2 separate regions of the Homo sapiens genome follow, and region 2 is linked to region 1. The links come from fine-mapping of genetic effects on gene expression. A gene starts in region 1. The other region holds a variant in brackets. All regions are shown on one strand. Distances are from middle to middle.

The links. PIP is the estimated chance that this variant, and not a neighbour inherited with it, causes the effect.
Region 2: its variant is fine-mapped to the expression of ZSCAN18 in whole blood (INTERVAL, PIP 0.99).

Annotation. Positions count from the first base shown.
Region 1 is chr19:58,096,661-58,099,567 of GRCh38, reverse strand. It overlaps ZSCAN18 (zinc finger and SCAN domain containing 18), which reads left to right and starts at 1,337. Exons shown (of 7, transcript NM_001145543.2): 1 at 1,337-1,394.
Region 2 is chr19:58,210,227-58,213,133 of GRCh38, reverse strand. ZNF274 (zinc finger protein 274) reads right to left here. Exons shown (of 8, transcript NM_133502.3): 7 at 1,448-1,574; 8 at 1-973. Among named protein-coding and RNA genes, the nearest start is that of ZNF544, 17 kb to the left of the region's middle. The variant GA/A (reference allele first, on the strand shown) is at 1,179.

The DNA of each region.
Region 1 (2,907 bases):
AAAATCTGTACACGAATGTTCATAGCAGCTTTATTTTTAATAGCAAAATACTTAAAACGATCCTAATATCTCTCAGTGGGAGAAGGTTTAAACTGCTATATACCATAGAATACTACTTCTCAATAAAATGGAATGAACTGTTGATACATACTACTTCAATGCCTCTCAAAGGAATTATGTTCAGTGAAAAAGCCAATCTGAAGAGGCCACATACTGTATGATCCCACTTATATGACACTGTGAAGGCAAAATTGTAGCAGTGGACTACTTAGATTAGCTGTTCCTGGGGTTATGGGTGGGGAGGGAGTGACTACCAAGAGGCAGCAGGAGGATTTTTGGGCAGTGGAGCTATTCTTTGTCCCGAGTTTGTTGGTGGATATGAGTTAAAATTCATAAAACTGAATACCAAAATGTGTGGTGTATGTAAATTTAAAATATATAAACTGTTCAGATATACATTTTAAAAATCAGTTCACACAAAAACGACCAAAATGGCATCCTCATAAGCGCCTCTATCTGGAAAACTGAAATGGGAAGCAGCTCCTGGCCCTATCCTGCCTTCCAGGGGGGCTACATTTATATGGGGCTTTGCCAAAGCCCTCACCCCAGCTGCCACTCACATTTCCCTCATTTCAGCAGCTCCTGAATCCCTGGGGTGGGTAATCTTTGAGTTCTATCCACTCCTTGAAACTGTAGAACCCATTTTAGCGCATCAGTGTCTCTGGGTCTCCACCTCTTGTCTCCCCAGTACTGGGTCTGCTGGTCCCTGTCTCTGTATCTCTGTCCAGATCTGTCTCAGCCTCGAGTGCTCCTTTTCTCTGGGTCTCTCTCTTTTCCTGAGCCTGAGCTGGTCTCTTTCTTTTCTTGAGCCCATGCTGGTCTTTCCCTTTCTTGATCCTGGGCTGGTCTCCCTCCTTTCTTAACCGTGAGCTGGTCTCTCCCTTTCCGTGTCCGACTCTGTACATCTCTGTTTCGGGGACCCCAGGGCGTCTTGGTCTGCCCCCGAGCGTCTGTGGGCCTTCATGCTTCTCTCCCTCCCGGTCTGCGCGTCTTTTTGTCTTTGTTTCTCCGTTTCTCACCGTCTTTGTTTCTCCGGGTCTCTGGCTGTCAGGGGTCTATTATTTACCCGCTTGTTTACTTCGTTGCCATGGTGCCCAAAATGACGCAGGCGCCGGAGTGGGCGGGACGCCGGGAGGCCACACTCGCGTCTGATTGGCCATGCGCACTGTCACCTGTCACGGCTCCCTTGCTCGCCCCGGTGCGCGGCACAGCCTCGCGGCATTGTGGGAGTCGTAGTCCGCGGTGAGGCCCAGTGCGCAGGCGCAGTTTGCCGGCCGCCATCGCGCACTGGGGCTCCGGGCGGCTGGGACCGGCCTGGGGTAGCTGCGCAGCAGGTGGGTCGGTCCCGGGGATGCAGCGCGGGGGTCAGAGAGCGACCCCAACAGGGTAGACGGTGAGGACGCCTCAGTGGGCAGCGTTAGGGAAAGGGGCCAGGGTGTTCCCGGGGTTGGGGTGCGAGCCCCCGCTGTGCGTCCAGGAGGCCGAGGGTCTGGCATCCCTTCGCGTGGAGTGCGGGGCAGGGGCCGGGTCCCCCCGGAGGTGGCTGAGATCCAGATCGGTGAGGGGCCCTGCAGGCAGGTAGGGAACTAGTGCAACCCCCACCCCGTGTAGGCTCGTGGAGGGGAGGCGCTTAGGGCACCCTGTGGGTGGGAGAACAGGAAGGGGCGGCTCCTGATGGGGGAGAGATGAGGGAGGGGGAGGCTCCTGATGGGGGAGAAAGGGGGGAGGGGAAGGCTCCTGAGGGGGGCGAAAAGGGGGAGGGGGAGGCTCCTGAGTGGGGAAGAGAAGGGAGGGGGAGGCTCCTGAAGGGAAGAGGAGGGGAGGAAGTGGGGGCTGAGGGTGTGAGGATGTGAGGGTGTCCGTGGTGGGGGGACGCTGGGCAGGCTGTGGCCCCAGGGGCTGGAGCAGGGAAGGGATGGAGGGTGCGGGGACCAAAGGGGTGCCTAGAATGGGCATTGTCTCTGCTGCCCCCACCCTTGGAATATCTCGCCTCTCCCCAGTCACCTGGGGGTGGGTTCTGTTTGAGTTAGGTGTCTGCGCCCACCCCGGAGACCTCTCTCGTGGAAGAGGCAAGAGTGGGTGTACTGGCTTCGGTCCTGACCCAGGGGGTTGGGGTGGGGGCCTGACTCACCCTCCCATCACTCCTTCCCCATTTCCTTTCTCTCACCCTCCTGGGCTCCTTCCTTTTCCCAATCCCCCTCTACCCCCGTCCAGACTATCTGGCTTTCCCTGCTCTTGCTCCTTCCTCTCCTGTCTTCTCTCTCCCTGCTACCTTCCCTCCCCGCTTCCCCCATTTCTGTCTGCCCTCCTTCCACTTTCCCATATATTCGCCTGTGTCCTTGCTGACTCCTGGGCGAGGCTGAGTGGCACAGTCACTTGGTTCCATGTCACCTCCTCGGTTCCATTTCACTTCCCCCATCCCATCATGTCCTGCGGATGGTTTCCTGCCCTGGAGTCAGAGCGGGACCACGTGTCGCATCGAGTTGCTGTTTTCTGTGCATGATGCTTGAATCTGTGACTTCCTGGGTATTTCTGGCCTCGGGTTTTCGGGGAGCCTAGGCCAGTTGCGCAGGACATCTCTCTGGTTCTGTCTGTCCTGGCGAGTGGATCAGGGACCACAAAAGGCAGCTGAGATGTGAACGACGACCCTTACTCCATGTTTTTTCATTCTTTTAAAAGCACTTTTACCCCTTTTTATAATGAGTAAGTGATCTGTGGATGAAGCCAGGGCAGACCCTGGGAATATCCGGCGACCCATCAACAACCACATCCCATGCATTGAGCTTCCCTGGCTGATCCTCAGGCCTGTGGCTGTGGGGTGGTTTGCTAGACCCTGCCGATGAGTGT
Region 2 (2,907 bases), 110 kb before region 1:
GGCTGTTTCTTCTTTCGCTTTGTCCTATTGTGGGTTCTCTGGTGCCCAATAAGGTGTGAGCTCTGGGTGAAGGCCTTTCCACATTTGTTGCATGCATATGGGCGCTCCCCGGTGTGAGTCCTCTGATGTCTGATGAGGTGGGAGCTCTGGCGGAAGGCTTTTCCACAGTCCTGACACTTGTAGGGCTTAGCGCCAGTGTGAGTCCTCAGGTGCTGGGAGATGGCTGAGCGATCATTGAAGGTCCTCCCACACTCCTGACATTCAAATGGTCTCTCTCCAGAATGAACTCTCTGATGCTGTGTGAGGGAAGAGCTCTGAACAAATCCTTTCCCACAGTCTTGACACACATAGGGCCTCTCTCCGGTATGGATTTTCTTATGCACAGAAAAGTATCTTGGGTTCCGGAATATTTTACCACATTCACTGCATCGGCAAACTTGGCTCCCCTTGTGAATTCTTATAAACGTAATCTGTTTAGTACTCCGACTGAAGGTTTTCCTACAACCATTGCCTTCCTTGGCCTTTTGCCTTTCACAGCTCTTCTGATGAATTTTTACACGTGAATTATGTTTCATACTTTTAACTTGTGAGTCACGTTTGCGCAATCGTTTTCTAGGAGGAATTTTGTGGAGCAAAACTTGGTTTGTGTCAAGAGCGCCACTGTTTGCCTGGGACTCAGGGTTGTCAATTTTCTGGAGCGAAACTTGGTTTGTGTCAAGAGCACCACTGTTTGCCTGGGACTCACGGTTGTCAAAGTGCTTCTTCTGAGGAAGGTCTTTTTCCTGAGCAGACTCCATCTGCTTCAACACTGTGTCTTGGACTTCCTGGACCCCACCCTGCAAGGTATCTTCTAATGTAGAGGACAAGGCACAATCCCTTGAGGATTCTTGTACTTTCAGGCTGGGGGCTGGTTCTTCCTCAGGAATGTCAGAATTTGGAGCTAACTCTTTATTTTCCAGTGTAGTCTCCCACCCTGAAAAAAATAAACAAAAGATGTGGATCCCATAGAGAGATGTGCTGGGATGGGTCTGAGAGCATGAAATGCATAATTAAGTTCAAAAGTCAGGATTTTTTTTTTCTCCCAAATAGAGTCATGCAACCTGGAGAGAGACTGAAAAGCAATGAAGCGGCAGGGAGGGGAGCACTGACCTTGGTGAACAAGGGACAGGAAGGGCAGG[GA/A]GTGTCCTCCGAGCTCTTCGAGTTCCTGTTCTCTCATACTCCCTCAGGAGATAGATAGCAAATCACTCCTTCACCGGACCTAAGGCTGCTTCTGGCCACCCAGTGACCTCACCCCTCTAGGTCTACAGTTCCACTTACAGGCCCTGGATGCAGCAAGGGCCCCTTGAGGGAATGCCCAGTGTGGAGTCTAGAGAAGGTGAACACCCCTGACTTGGGGCTCCTGTGGCCTACCAGCCCTGAGGTGGGTGAAGAGGGGGCACAGCCTTACCCACAGAGACCAGGTGCCCAAAGGTCTCCAGCATCACATCGCGGTACTCGGTCCTCTGTGTCGGGCCCAGCAGCCCCCACTCCTCCCGGCTGAAGTCCACAGCCACATCCTGGAAGGTCACTGGCTCCTGTAACATCACATATGTGTCTATGCTCAGCAAGAGGGTCAGAGGGTTGTCAATGAGGGCAGAAGAAAGGCCAGCTGGGAGGTTCTGACAGAGCTCACGGTGCTAGGGACTCTCCTGCTTTGGGGATTTGCTCAGAGACACCAACCCAGGGCCCACAAGAGTTCTACTGGGTCCAAACCAGGGTCTGGGTCTCAGGCTGGGAGGCAGAGCCCTTGCTTCATAAAGAGCTCCAAGTGCAACAAGCAAACAACTCCATCCTAACCACGGCTCTATCCAGCTTGCCCATTGCTGAAATCTTCCCACTGCAGAGGGTTCTCCATCTATTAATACTGTCTTCCCACTTGGTGGAAATGACAACCAAGCCCCTGCCTTTGTCGACAGGGCTGACCTGGGGGAGGGCAGTCACCCTGGCACAGCCATGACTGGTCCTTTCTGGGGAACTGACCAGGACTTTGGGAAGAAGAGGTACCCCCAACGCTGCTTTGCCAGGATCTGAGGCATTTTGCTTACATGGGGCAGAATCTGCCTAAGAAGAAAGGGGAGTGGCCACGCGCAGTGGCTCACACCTATAATCCCAGCACATTGGGAGGCCAAGGCGGGTGGATCACCTGAGGTCAGGAGTTCGAGACCAGCCTGGCCAACATGGTGAAACCCCGTCTCTATTAAAAATACCAAAAATTAGCCGGGTGTAGTGGCAGCTGTCTGTAATCCCAGCTACTCAGGAGGCTGAGACAGGAGAATCACTTGAACCTGGGAGGCAGAGGTTGCAGTGAGCTGAGATCGCGCCATTGCACTCCAGCCTGGGCAACAAGAGTGAAACTCCATCTCAAAAAAAAAGAAGAAGAAAGGGGAGAAAGCAGAGCCATGAAACAGGTTGGCCAGAGATTCTTCCCATCACCTGGGAGCACCTGGATGCAGCCTTGCCTGAAGCCTACCAGAGAATACATGAGAGCCAATAAATTGACTTCTACGCTTGAGCCAGTATAAGCCATTTGCAGTGCAAACAGGTCTGACCAATGACACATACATACCACTACCCCAGTGGTCAGCGCATCAGGACCAATCTTTTTCACCCACACCCCAGCTCTGGGTTATTCTGAAGCAAATCCCAGATACCAAAGATAAATACCTAAGTATGCATTTCTGAAGGTTGAGGGCTCTCTTGTTCTGACCTGGATACAGATGTGCCTGCCTGTGGTAGTTCCACCTCTCAAGTCTCTGTAAACACTTAGTCCCTTCCCTCTTGCCTCCTGCTTTCTCAGCTCCCGGGTCACCATGCGTTGTCTCCAGTGATGCCACAGTGGCTGGAGGGCAGGGCTGCTCTTCATACTCA